2 linked regions of the Homo sapiens genome follow. The protein of the gene in region 2 interacts with the protein of the main gene of each other region in a pairwise test. Each region holds a gene or a part of one and is shown on either strand. Other genes may lie near its edges.

What was found. Proteins that work in one complex are often made in the same cells at the same time.
Region 1: the proteins of SORBS2 (region 2) and FAT1 interact in a two-hybrid assay, tested with the Homo sapiens proteins (one study listed by BioGRID).

The regions. Positions count from the first base shown.
Region 1 is NC_000004.12:186,587,818-186,594,856, forward strand, and holds part of FAT1 (protocadherin Fat 1 isoform 1 precursor), read right to left. Parts: intron 2,587-7,039; coding exon of another isoform or gene 2,551-2,586; intron 1,404-2,550; coding exon 775-1,403; 3' UTR 1-774.
Region 2 is NC_000004.12:185,585,182-185,592,220, forward strand, and holds the end of SORBS2 (sorbin and SH3 domain-containing protein 2), read right to left. Parts: intron 6,896-7,039; exon of another isoform or gene 6,724-6,895; intron 4,605-6,723; coding exon 4,498-4,604; intron 4,049-4,497; exon of another isoform or gene 3,973-4,048; intron 3,010-3,972; exon of another isoform or gene 2,744-3,009; intron 2,508-2,743; coding exon 2,446-2,507; 3' UTR 342-2,445; downstream 1-341. UniProt on the Homo sapiens protein: Adapter protein that plays a role in the assembling of signaling complexes, being a link between ABL kinases and actin cytoskeleton. Can form complex with ABL1 and CBL, thus promoting ubiquitination and degradation of ABL1.

The DNA of each region.
Region 1 (7,039 bases), 1.0 Mb from region 2:
GTAAGAAAGACTGGCTAATGGTAGTTTTCATTAAAAACCTTTACAAGACCATTGCATCACAAATATACAGACACTATAAAAACTGTGTCATGGTGGTTTTGGTTCTAAACAGGTATGCAGAAGGTCCCCGTTACACTTTCCAATAATGAAAAATGTTTATAATTCTAAATACAGCAACCCATGTAAGACATGTTCATGTATCTGATCTCTCCTTCATCCTATGTACAGCTAGAAATGAATGACTACACTGAAATGTACTAACAAAATGTCACACTTCAGTGGAAAAAGACAGAATGAAACCCTGGTTATAGTAAAAAAAAAAAAATCAGGGTGCTAGATAATGGCACTGACACCACCAAAATTCAGTTGAAACAAATGCACAAAATATCTTGGAAATCTAGTTAAAACTATGAAAAATCAAATCTGTACATAAAATTTACAAAAAAAAGAGACAGGAAAATTAAAATAATCAAATCTATATAAATACATGAATCATGCTGACAACACAGGACTGATTTTTCGTTTGATTATTTTAACACAGACAGATGTAAATCCCAAAAGACGTTGGGAAATGGCACAGCCGATGAAAACCTCACGATGACAGTAGTTGGGACACTGGAAATGGCTAGCACGTCCAGAGGCGCAGGATCCAGCGCAGCCATGCCCATTCGGCTCACCAAAAAAAGCTTGGAAGCACTGCTGCAAAGAACAGCGCGGATTACTCACATCACCTCTAGGTTCACTAAAGTCAGGCACTTTGGGGGGAGTTGAGAGTCAGACTTCCGTGTGCTGCTGGGAATCCAGGGGCGGGATCGTCACCTCTTCGAAGTGGCCGTCGTCCCCGCTCTCATAGTCACTCATCATGACCTCGGACTCCACTTCGCAGCAGGCTGACACGTCAGAGCAGGAGGCGGTGGAGGCGTACACAGACATGGGCATGCTCTCGACAGCGGGCGCCTCGAAGTGTCTTTGATACCCTGGCGGGTAAGGGGCATGGGGTTCTCTACAAGTACTATTCTCACCAGTGCCTTTTGTTTGAGGTTCAGACATATCGAGGGGATAAAAATTGGGCAAATACTGATTCAAGTTGAACCTCTGCCGGTTTCTTGATGAAGAACCCAAGCTACCCGCGGCAGGCATGTCTCTAGGAGGGTGGATGGATTCAAACTGATTGCTGAATTCGGGCGGTAACGGTGGTAGCTCATCAGCTGCGGGGAAGTCTTCTGGGGGTGGAGGAAAATCACTTTCGATGTCGTAGCCTCCAGGGTAATAGTCCGTATCGATGGCGTTTGGATCTGCTGAGTACAGGGGTGTCTGCTCATCAATCACCTCATAGTTGGGGAACTCTTGTATGTCCGGCAGAGGAACGCTTGGCATCCAATCTGATGTATCCCAGTGATACCCTTGGTGGAAAAGAAAACAGATGTCAGTGTGTTTTCTCCTAAGCTTTTGTGCCATGGAAAGAGAGCTCAGTGTATCAAAGACACAAAGATGCAACCGCATTTATGCCTTCATTCAAAGTTCACCACTGGAAATTCCTCGTCTTTGCTTTGAAGACATCCCCCAACCCACTCCAGTTTAAAGACCCCTATGAACTAGGCTCTAGTTCTAAAATGTGGACTTACAGTTTTATGTACGCAACTAACATTCAAGGAAACAAAAGGAGTCCTAAGAGAAATGGGATGCTAGCATCTAAATTATATACATTTTTCTACAAATGATTCTAACCATCCTTCTGGCTTTTCTTCTGTAGAACCCACTGCTCTGTAGGAAGAAGAGTACTGATCCAGTCTCAGGACATTAGTGAAATATCCAGTGTCACTTGATCTGCACTACTTCTCATTAAAAAAATACTGATTAATGCAACTTAAAAAAATTTTGCATTTCTATTTTTTATAGAGACAGGGTCTCACTATGTTGCCCAGGCTGGTCTTAAACTCCTGGCCACAAACAATCTTGCCAATTCAGCTTCCCGAAGTGCTGGGATTACAGGTGTGAGCCATCAGGCCCAGCCAATGCAACTTTTTAAAGTAATAAAAGTAACCTTTAACATGCTAAAGTTTAGAAAATAAGCTTCCTTCATAATAATGTAGCAAGTTTAATATTAAAATTACTATTTTTCATTAACCCTCAGACAACAAATTAACTTAATATAGGTATGTATCAAAGCATGCCAATTCAAGCAAAATACAATTGAACAAGCGTTGCAAGATTATAACACAGCCTCTGATACACTGTAACAATCAATCTGTGTTACTTCCAAAAGGACTGTGATCCTTTTAGACTATATAAAGCACCACTATTTTAAAAAAAAACTTCCAATTTTGGAATAGTTTTTTTTTTTTCCTCCTTAGGATTTAAAAAATCCTTGGAGAGGCGGGAGAAGGTTAGGCAATCCGTGCTTCAAATGCAATGCGCACACACATGCAGCCGTGTACTTAGTTACTGCTGCAAACACTGGGCGACCCAGCGTAGTCAGTCAGCACTGGGGCAAGGCTTGACCCATTGTTTTTAGTGAGTATCAATGAATAACTGGCATGCATAAGTCACCTCTTGGTTTGCTGAGGTCAGGAGCAGCCAAAGATTCTTTTGGTGGCAGAGTAGAAAAAAAAGAAAACATTTGTAATTAAAACAGTCGGCTGAAAAGGCAATAAAGGTAAGTACACAGAACAATGAAAACTGCTTACAGAGGCCCAATCAGCCATACAGCATGTCCTTACGCCAGTATCTATGACAATTCCAAATGGCTGAGAAATGTATGTACCACAAATAAAATGGAATATGGAAGTGGAGGAAAGTGACTGCGGAATGAGGAACCAGAAATTTGGCCAGAAAACTCAAATATTACTTTCTTTTCCTTGTTTCTGACAATCACAGCCTGAAAACACAGAATTTCCTTAGGAATAATGAAAACAAAACAAACAGGCTCTAATAAAATATAAACTGATCAGATTACATAGGTGATAATCCAAATACATCTACAGCTACATAATGCACACACTTTATAGCACACTGCAACTTCAAAGGACATTAAATTCAGAGGAATTCATAGGCAAACTTAGATACTTAAAGACAGATGTACAAGCTGAAGATCTCTCCAAACTGTATGTATTTTGAATATGCTTTAATATTGACACTGTGAGCCATTCCCTAAAGAGACCACGGCTACACTTACCCCATGTCTGTAATTACACTTGCCCTGCCAGGGCCCCGCATCTATACACAGAAGCCCAGCAGGAAGTGTAACCAAACGCATGTAAATCCCACTATCAGTTAGGGCCATGAGACGCCTGCCCAGGCCCTGGCTAACCTTCAGGTTCTCTCTTTGAAATGGGGTGAAAATCCGTTAGAGTTGTTATGAGGATTAAACAGGATCATGCAGGTTAAGCACTGTTAGAAACTATCAATAACTGTGAAAGTAGACATCACAGCAGAAAAACGGTCACATCCGTGATTTTTTAAACAAGGCTTTCTATGCATTCAACAGTGTTATAATTTGGGACAAATATTTGATTGATAGTTCACTTCTAGAAATTTCAGTAATTTTAAAAGACTGTGGTGTCTCTAAAACATGAATACGCCGGCATTTAGGTAACATGTATCTACAGAATCATTTTTAAGTCTAGTAACAAAAGCAGCAATTCCTTTAAACAAAAAAAGATCAACAACTTTTGTTACGTAGGCACTAGTAATAGCTTTCAACTTTAAATTCCATGTGCACTTCTTGGATATGCCAAAAAATATTTGTCAATGAAGGAGACTGCAATGAAGGAACTGTTGAAATTCTGCTTCTATAAGCTTCAATAATATTTAAAATGCTGAAGGTCATCAGTTTAACACTAAAACTTCACTAGACAAAATACAGGTATGTTTCTGATTTGCCCAGTGAAAACATGGTACTTCTTAGGAAAAGAAGTGTAGGCGTCATCAGTAACTATAACCATGAACACTGGAGTATCTAAGCCTCTTCTGCCTGATAGCAAATGGGGCCCAGAGCTATCCTCCCTCCTCCTGAACCTTGACAGCATCATGTCCTAGCATAAAGGATCCCCCGAACTCTATGATGACGTCTGTGTACTCGATGGCCTCTGTAAGCAGTTCTCGAGTGGGATCTCTAGACCGGCACCATCAGAGCTACCTGGGAACTGGTGAAAAATGCAAATTCTAAAGTCCCAACCCAGACCTGTTGGATCAGAAATGCTGGTGCTGAGAACCAGCAATTGGGCTTTTAACAGCCCTCCAGATGATCTGATTCACATTACAGTTTGAAAAGTACTAGCCTGTGTCTTCCCCATGTGATGAATTTCAGTGCACTAATAAAGGGCTATTTTAATTTAAAATAATTTGGGGAAGGTGCTCAATGTCCTTTCTTACAACTCTGAGCAGATAAAGCTTCACATTAAATAATTTTCACTAAACCAAATATGAAAATATTCTTTTACCATGCTCTACACCCTTTTCTTTGATCATACTCAGGGAAAAACCAAAAGTGAAGAGTCAGTTACAGGTTAATTATGAAAGCTTTACATTATTCAAGTCTTATTCCTGTACATACGAAGAAGAATTTTTGTTTCAAAAAAATTTTAGGTAAAATTACTTCTGAACTTTTTCTTGATTGCACCACCTACAGATAAGCTCTCCAGATCTCATGTAAATCACTATGAATGGTAAAAAGGAACAAAGACATAACATACATTGAGATATTTTTTGCAAAGCACTCATATTACGTATATACACACCTGCATAAAATAAAAGGACTCAACCCCCTCAAAACCACAAACTGTTTTTTCCTACCATTGCAATAGCAATGCGGCCGAGCTCTACGACACGGCTGCTGCAAGACACAGACACAAGCACGAGCACTTACAACTGTACCTTCTGTGCTCACCGTGTCAACCACAGCATTGACAAGGTGCATTACGGTCACTATGGAAGCTTGCAAAAAGGTACAAAAGCAGTCAATTAGGAACATCTTCAGTTAGTTAGAAAACAGTGCATGAAATAAAGTTTTGTATTATACCATTTCTACCTCAGATTCCAACCGATGAGTGCTTTAATACAACCACATAATGATGCGTGGTCTCCTCACTGTTAGCTGTGTGTCTCAGAGACTTTTTTAATCGAGCTATATATTTGTTATTATTAATCAAAGGAATAACGTAAACATATTTTATTGGAATTTAAACAAAAAAACTTTTAGCTTTAAATTTTTTCACAATTACAATTATGCATCATGCCAGGCCAAAACGATTCTTATTTTAACATCTTACAGGCAAGACTCGACATTCCAAGACTACAGTCTGTGGTTCGCCACTCTTCCGGCTGCTTAATCACTCACACATTGTCCCCCAAAAAAAAGAAATTGAAGGAGAAACATATGCAATCTAAAACAAGAATGTTTTTGTCCCTGTTCTGATTGCTTTCCCTGCAAATTTCTCGTCTGTTTGCAGATGGACTAATCGCTGGTGAGCTAATGTACGAGTATAGGAGGAGACTCTGTCCGTCTGTTTCCTGTGTAAATTCCCTTTTCATTTGTGTATCAGATTGTTTTAAAATAACTATGCCAAGGTAAATATGTACGCATGTGGTAGGCAGAAGGCTGGCCCTCAAATAGTCCACGTCCTAATCCCAGGAGCCTGTGAATATGTCACTATACATGGCAAAAGGGACTTTGTTGACGCGGTTCAGATAAGGAAATTGAGATGAGGGATTTCCCTGGATTACCTGGGTGGGCCCAGTGTAATCATAAGGGTAACTTTTCTGCACAGAGGCGTTCCCAGTTACGGCTGGGGGGAGCTCTGCTGACAGAAGGGTGGTCAATGAAACACTGTGTTGCTGTCTCTGAGATGGAAGAAACCAAGAGCCAAAGAATGTGGGCAGCCTCTAAAAACCAGGAAAGGAAGGAAAACAGGTTCTTCCCTCGAGCTGCAGAAGGCAATGCAGCCCTACTGATCGCATGACTTAAGCCCTGTGAGACACAGGGGTTGGGCTTCTAAGCTACAGAATGACAGCAACACAAGTCTACATTGTTTTAGGCCACAAAGTTTGTGGTAATCTGTAATGGCCCTGGAAAACCGGGAATACGACGCAGGAACAGACTCTCAGCAGACTTTCAGTTTACAACTGATAATTACATTATGGTAATGAGTAAAATAAAAACACTCCTGTATATATGTTTTTTCTCTGCATTGTACTATCTGGAAGCTAGTTTTCATAACTAATTTGACCATAACTTATTGAAAGCACTTGGGACTATTTTTTTTTTTGAGACAGAGTCTCGCTCTGTCGCCCAGGCTGGAGTGCAGTGGCGTGACCTCAGCTCACTGCAAGCTACAACTCCCGGGCTCAGGCCATTCTCCTGCCTCAGCCTCCCCAGTAGCTGGGAGTACAGGTGCCCACCACCACGCCCGGCTGATTTTTTTTATATTTTTAGTAGAGACGGGGTTTCACTGCCAGGACGGTCTCGATCTCCCAACCTTGTGATCCGCCCGCCTTCACCTCCCAAAGTGCTGGGATTACAGGCGTGAGCCACTGCGCCCGGCCACCTGGGACTATTATTAAGAAGACTGATGTTCCAACAACAAGAACTAGAAAGAAAATGCTGATAAAATTCTGAAATGTATTTATAAAGAGCATTTAGGGGCCAAGATATAAATTATTACATAAACTGGAAACAGGAACTTCTTAGAATTAAAATTGATAAAAGACATAATTCTATCTTGTTGGTTTAACAAGCAAAGCTATGTCCATACACCCTATTCCTAATCAACACAGGTATATTTTGATACCATATATACGGTATCAAAATATACCTGTGTTGATTAGGAATAGAGTGTGTATATATATATATACTTGAAAGTATATATATATATATATATATATACTTGAAATCAGAAATGATAGCACATACTTATAGCTATCTTTAGTTTGAAAAATGACTGCAATAGATAATGACTATATGGATTTATGGACTATATGATGTATTATGGACTATATTACTCTGGATTGAATAATTATTAGTGGGGTTACCTTTTCCCAC
Region 2 (7,039 bases):
GCTGCTTAGGGCAAAGATTTTAAAATTTCAGAGTGTTGAACTGGGAAAGTGCTTACAACTCCTTGTAACTAACCCCTCCTTGGAAAACTAGCTGTTTTGAGGCAGAAATATTTTACAATGTATTGTTTTAACTGAAGGGCAATTTTTAGCCAAAGAACGTTTAGCAAATGAGCTTTGGTGGTGGGTTTAAAAATATTTCTTCTCTGAGCTGATGCTGACACAGCTTTTCTCCATGTTTGTGTTAAAAGAACACACAACAAAATGCATTTTCTCTTAGTTTAACAAGTTGGAATAAAATACACAATTTTTATAAAGATAAATGTCAAGAAGAAAAACTGAAGTATACTTCCAAGCAAAATTTATTAGATGTCTATTCAAGAAAAACACAATGACCTTTGCTTGTAAGAATTCAAAGTCAATTACCTGGAAGCCAGGTATGAATAGTTTTTTCTTTTAAAATCAGATACAGAGAGTAGAAACAGTAATTTTTCTTAAATATGACAGGCAACAGATATTGAAGTCTTTTCTCATAAATGGCATCAAAGAGAATTATTCATTTATCAGCAAAGCTGCATGCAGTTGACTTAATTTCAAACCTGAAGCCTTTAAAATATGAAGCTGGTTATGAACTTGACAGAAATCAAGGTAGGCTACTCAACGATGTTTCTTTACCTTCTTCCTAATGAAATTCCCTTGTCATCAGTCAGTAGATATGTACATTTCATTTGGCTTCTACGATCTTTTAACTTCATAGATTTTTGCATAAATGCTATCTGACAGAATCACACTATCTAGGGGTGCTTGTGATCTGTGAGATAAGGAGAGGCTAGTCTGCTGAAAGTGTTGTCGCAGGATAAAGACCAAATTAGGAAACGCCCCTGTTTTCTCAACAACTAGTCTGTACAAAAAAAGAGCAAACATATGTACAAAATTCTAGAGGCTACGTACATTGTGAAAAGATCAATATCACTGTCCATGAAAGAGATGCCATAAAAAGTTTTATCTGTAAGGTGCTCAAGATCCAAAGATGAACAGTTCTTATGCAAAGTCATAAGAAATACAAAGCTAGTTTTCGGAGCAGGTGTAATTCAGGCACTGTGAACCATATTAAACCTTCCAGGTCCCAATATCATTTTTTAAATTTCTGCTTCAGGGCAGAAAATAAAACCTGAATGATTTAACATTGCTTCTAAAAAGTGCCTAATTTATTCCTAGGAAATATTTTACACACACCAGGAAAATCAGGCTCAACATATTCCTGTCCTCAAATGTAGCCAGGATTCTGAGTTCCATAGAAGAAAAATAATTATTATAGTAAAAATAATTGTAGTAATCCTAATCCTTGCTAAAACCAACTTTAATACTTGTGATGCTTCTGTACTCTATTTCTATAAAATAATGTGTGAGATTCTATTACATTTCCATAAAATGTACAACATATCATATGGATTATATGTTCTCATACAATCTCAAATGTGTATGTGTACACACAGTGAAATCTTACCTACTAGTATTGCTTACAGATACTTTCAGGTGTCTGTTAGAATAATTCTTTGCACCTCTCACTAACACTGCTTTTACTTACATTTTTTCAGATAAATAAAACACTAAGAGCTCATTGTTCATGATGCTGATCATTACATTTTAATATAAAATAGCGATGCAACTTTACAACACAATAGTTTTCCCCTGTAGCCTAGCTCAGCCTCTTGTATTGTCATGATTATTACCGAAGGCTTTTATTTACTTACTGTTTGCACTTCTAAAAAATGCAAACAAATTGCAGAAAAAGACTCCTATTTGAAAACTCACATTCAATCAGCAAAATCACACTCATCCAAATTAACTCGCCTCCTCTTGCTTTAAAGGTTGTAATCACTGTGCATATTACAACATGTATGTGCAGGCAAACAATAGCTAAAGTACAGTTACAGTTGTCATATTGTGTAAACCAAGACACTAGGCAAACTTGTGAAAAGAATACACACTGCCAAGCGAAGAATATGAAAATGCAAACCACAGCATTCCCCAATAAACAATTTTCTGGTCGTCTTGGGGGAGAACATCGCCTGGGGGGAGATGTTGAAATGGAGCCACGAGGCTGGACAGCCTCCTGGAGACACTTTTTTTTTTTTTTTTTGCCTCAAATATTTGACCATTTTTAAATATCATGATTTTTTTCTTTCTGATCCCACATTTTGACGTGTCAAAGCTTAGAGCAGGAAGTAGGAATCCACACTTTCACGGAGGGGGACCAGCCTGCCATGTCGTCCCCAGGCTCACAGCAGCGGCGGCTACTCTGCTGGTGGTTTGGTGGCAGGTGGAGATGGTGACGGCGCATTGGAAACCGTAAGGCATGACAACGGGAGGCCCGCGGGGTGTTTCAGGCGCGTTGACGCAGGTGCATGGCTGGCAGGCGGCCTCTACAGAAGGAGGGAGCGCAATTCACAGCCTCTTGACGTAGTTTCCGGGGAAAGTACCAAAGAATTTGGTTCTTCTTGAGGTCCCTGAAAATAGAAGCGAGTCATGAAAGGGGGGTGACAACGATATCAGTTCATACACATGGGCTTGAATACTTCCCATTTACAAGGCCTCGGAAGACAGCAAGCCCCGAGGGGTTTGGAAAAGAAGGCAGGCAACTCACATGAAGCCCATAGGCAGACAAAATAAGCAGTGTTAGCTGGTTGCCTGACGCTCTCACTGCCCCTCCGGCATAAATGCTGCGCTGCCATCGCGGCAGGCTAAACAGAAATGCTGAGCCTCCCAAGCTAAAGGGAAAGTCAGCCCTGCTGAGGAGGGGGGCGGAGGAGCTCAGTCACTGAGGCTGCCACACCAGAGTCGGGGGTGAGGGATCAAGGCGAGGCTGACAGGTGACAGGGTGAGTGGAAAATCCTAAGAGCAAAGCTTCTCAGGGACCAGCAACCCGCGCAACACAGGTGCGACATGAAGACATCATCTGTGGCAGGCTGTCGCTGTTCCAACAGTTTTATCATCTTACAGAAGATCATGGTCAGTGCCACATCATTTATTTAAAAACAGCACTGCCAGAGTCCTTCATCGAGTATACAATTTTTCAACAATTTACAAATCATTAATGAAAAAAAGGATTAAGCACTATTTGTGTGTGGGAGTTCTATCAGTGGCATGATTTTTAACATGGTGTGTGTTTAACCACACGCACAAATGGCTATCATAATTATGTTCGCCTCTGGTTTCAAATAATGTAATTCCTTGGACACTTCTTGTAAAAGTTGGTGCACTAAATTGCTAAATTCTTCTTTAGGCAGCGCAGATGGACCGGATAAGGGTCTCTCAAGCTTCATCTGTCTCCTATATCCTGGCACTTACTGCCTTGGTTTGATGGCTGTTTTTCTTTTTCCTTGGCTAGGCAAGCCATTTTACGTTTCTCCTCCCTCCTCCTCCTCCCTCCTCCTCCTCCTCCTTGTTTTTGAGATGGAGTTTCGCTCTTGTCGCCCAGGCTGGAGTGCAGTGGCATGATCTCGGCTCACTGCAACCTCTGCCTCTTGGGTTCAAGCAATTCTCCTGCCTTAGCCTCCTGAGTGGCTGGGATTACAGGCACCTGCCACCAAGCCCAGCTGATTATTGTACTTTTGGTAGATACGGGGTTTCACCATGTTGACCAGGCTGGCCTCGAACTCCTGGCCTCAGGTAATCCACCCGCCTCGGCCTCCCAAAGTGCTAGAATTACAGGCATGAGCCACCGCACCCGGCCTTTTTTTCTTCTTTTAATGGAAATAAAATCAGAGGCTTGTGGCCGCACCAGGGCCTCAATTCTTTCATGATTTTGCCACCGATGGATGTCTAGAGTGAGCCCTCCTCTCCTCTCACCTTTCCTCTCTTCCATTCTCTGCCCTGCAGCCTGTGTTTCCTTTTCACCTCTTTCTGTGGCCCAGTGTAAAATACTTTTGTCTACAAATGTTTTCCCAGAAGACCTCTCGTCTTTTTTTTTAGGATGGTAAAGATGAAGTTGCCTTTTAAGTGGGAAGAATGGAACGTCTCTCTGCTTCCACCACAAACTAAAGTTAAGGTGAGTCACTGAATGTTCGGGCATCTACGTCAGACCTAGGAAACGGGAGAGCTGTTCACTTAATCTCACTCCCTCTGAAATTAGATTCTCACTGTGGACAACTAACATTTTCCACAGCACAGAGCGTTGATATTTCTCTTCTGGGGACCATTTGTTGTTGTTGTTCTTAGATCTCAATCTTTCCTGGTTTTTGCTATTTAAAGAAATTGTCTTCTCTCAGTTGAGTTGGAAATAAAGCTCGCAGAAAATCACACATAGCTGAAGCAGTGAATACTAAACTATATTAAAAATGCAATAGCCTTGGGATTACATTGTGCATATGAATGTCTGAAAGATCAAAGGCATTACGAATTCAAAGGAAGCTCGGCCATCACAGCAAACCACGGGAGTGAGCAAACTCAAGCAAATTACAAAATAGCCGAAGGTGCCTGAGGAAGAAGCGCACATACCCACAAACCAGCCGTCATCACACTTTTCCATGACATCAATGACATCACTTTCTCTGAGCTCCAGCTCATCTTCATTCCTGGGAGTATAGTTATACAGAGCCTGAAACCTTAAACAGGACAAGGGAATGTGTTTAAAAACATCTTGACACCTTCATGAAATATAGAAGATAGAACAATATTCATTCTTCCTTTAACATTCCTATTCTTAACAACATTCTGTTGGGTGGTACAAGCCTGGTAAGCATGTAAATAGCATTCTATTGGATGGTACAAGCCTGGTAAGCAGGTACATAGCAATATGTAGATCTTCACAGGCATTAGAACACTCTAACAACATTTTGAAACTCACGAGGAATATCCATGAAAATTGTAACATTCATAAATTGGATTAAAATATGTCAACATGTATAAGTCAGACCCGCATTTCAGTTGTCCAGCCATCTAACGTCTATCATTTAGACATTAAATAATAGTACAAAATATAAAATAAGTGATATTTGTATTATTTAACTGTTTAAAAACAAGAAGGAATCACAATTTTAGCTAGCCATAATCAGAAGCAAATAATGGGGGCTTGAGAATTGAATTTTCAAAGGTTCTAAATGGAGATAGACAAAATGTGTCAGACATGTCTTTTTAATCACTCTGTGTGAATTACTATACAAAGGAAAATTATTTTTTTTACTAAGAGGAATTCTTTAGATCAGTTTAATGTTATGGTTTGGATCAGTGTTTTCTGAGGATGTAGAATTGGAAGATTTGATGTAATTAGCCTATGAAGTTGAGTAGATGTATTCTATGTGCAGTTATTACTGATTCCATTTCAAGCAGACTATGGACATAAGTCTCTTTTTAAAATGAGTCCCAGAAAAATTGTATTTGATTTTAAAACTCTCTCTTGAAATAATTTTATATAAAAAAGAATTATTGATAGAATGCTATCACTTTCCTTTCCCGGCCTGAATTCTTTGACAGCATATACTGTGGTGGAAATTGATCAATAATGAATTCAGACACTGAATTTGTGGTAAGAAAACACCATACATTATAATAAATAGTAACATGGGCTGGTGTTTTTGGAAAATGAAGGCGAAATTACTGTAGCTGAGAAGGTCAAGAAGAATTTGATAGGCAGTTAACATGAAAACTTCTTCATAATAGTACTAAAATATTACCAGTACTGTGAGGGGGTTTTTAAAAATTGGGAATTTGTTTCTGCTGCTTTCTGTAACAGTCATGTCATTCTGCTAATGTGAGAAAATAATTACCACTTTCTAGGGTATTTTAGATTTTTTCATGCCAACTTAAAAAAGTTGATAATCTTGACTACCGCTCCGGAACAAGAATGATTTATTTTTAATTACTTTATGAGTCAGAAAATAATATTTTGGTAGAACAAAACTATTCTATCATTTAAACTCAAATCTTATGTCATTAATAAGCAACAGTGACCTACTGGCTTCCCCCCGTTCATCCAGCATTTGGACTGGGGGAGCTGGATAGAGTTGGCTTCAGAGAATGCCTAACAACATCCCCTAGAAAATATTGTTTTCCCTGGCCTGGCACCAAAGCCTGAAATTTCAACATTAGAGGCTTCTTCTCCTGTTAAAACTTCATCCTTCCAGTAGACCTTACAGCCACTTATATCCTTTTGAGCATGGGCTTCTGAGGCCTTTTCTTGAGAGAGGGGTTTGTGATTATGGGGAAGGGCAGAGAAAGGCAGCTAGCATCCCAGAGTAGTGGCCAAAAAGACAGGCAGGTGTGGAATACAGAAACGTCACCTGATTTGGATGTTTGCATGTGGCCAGCTTTGCTAGGGGTAGTCCATTTATTTTGTTGCTTGTGTAAAGAATTTGATTTGGAGGCTGCTCAGGTGAAGGGGTGGTATCTTTTGTGTATCTGTGGGGAAAGTTCACGGTCCCTTTTCCAGTTTCACATTTGAGAGAGATGGTGGTTCCTGGGCTGCTGTTTTGATGGATACACACGGCATTTCTCACTTTGGGAAAACTGATTCTTTTATTGAGCTTCTCAGGCTTGAACCCTGCCCAGGCTCATCTCCACCCACTCATGGAGACCGGTTACCTAAGGCTGCAAACCTCAGCTGCTGGAAAGAATCTCAAGGTCTCAGAGCTAACGCAACAAAATTGGCACAGACTCCTGCTTCATTTTTGTCTGATGAAAGCCAGCATGTTTGTCCAAATTTATTTACCATTCTGGTTTAATTAGACCACAGAAACAAAAACAAAACAAAAGAAAACCCACGGAGTTTTATGGAAACGTAAACACACCTTCAGGAAATCCTCCTGCCTCTCCTGGCTTTCAAAGCCAGTGTTGCACAATGGGAAATGAAGACAAATCCAATGTTAAAAAATGCTGTTGTGAAAGATGTGTTGGTGAGGTGAGTGATGGTGGTGGGGTAAGGATGCCTCAAAAAGAAAGGTGTCTTTTAAACAGGAAATGCTGAGCCAGACTGGAAGCCCTCTCGATAACTTGCAACTTTTTCTAGAACATATTTCACTAAAACTCTGAATTGTAGTGACAT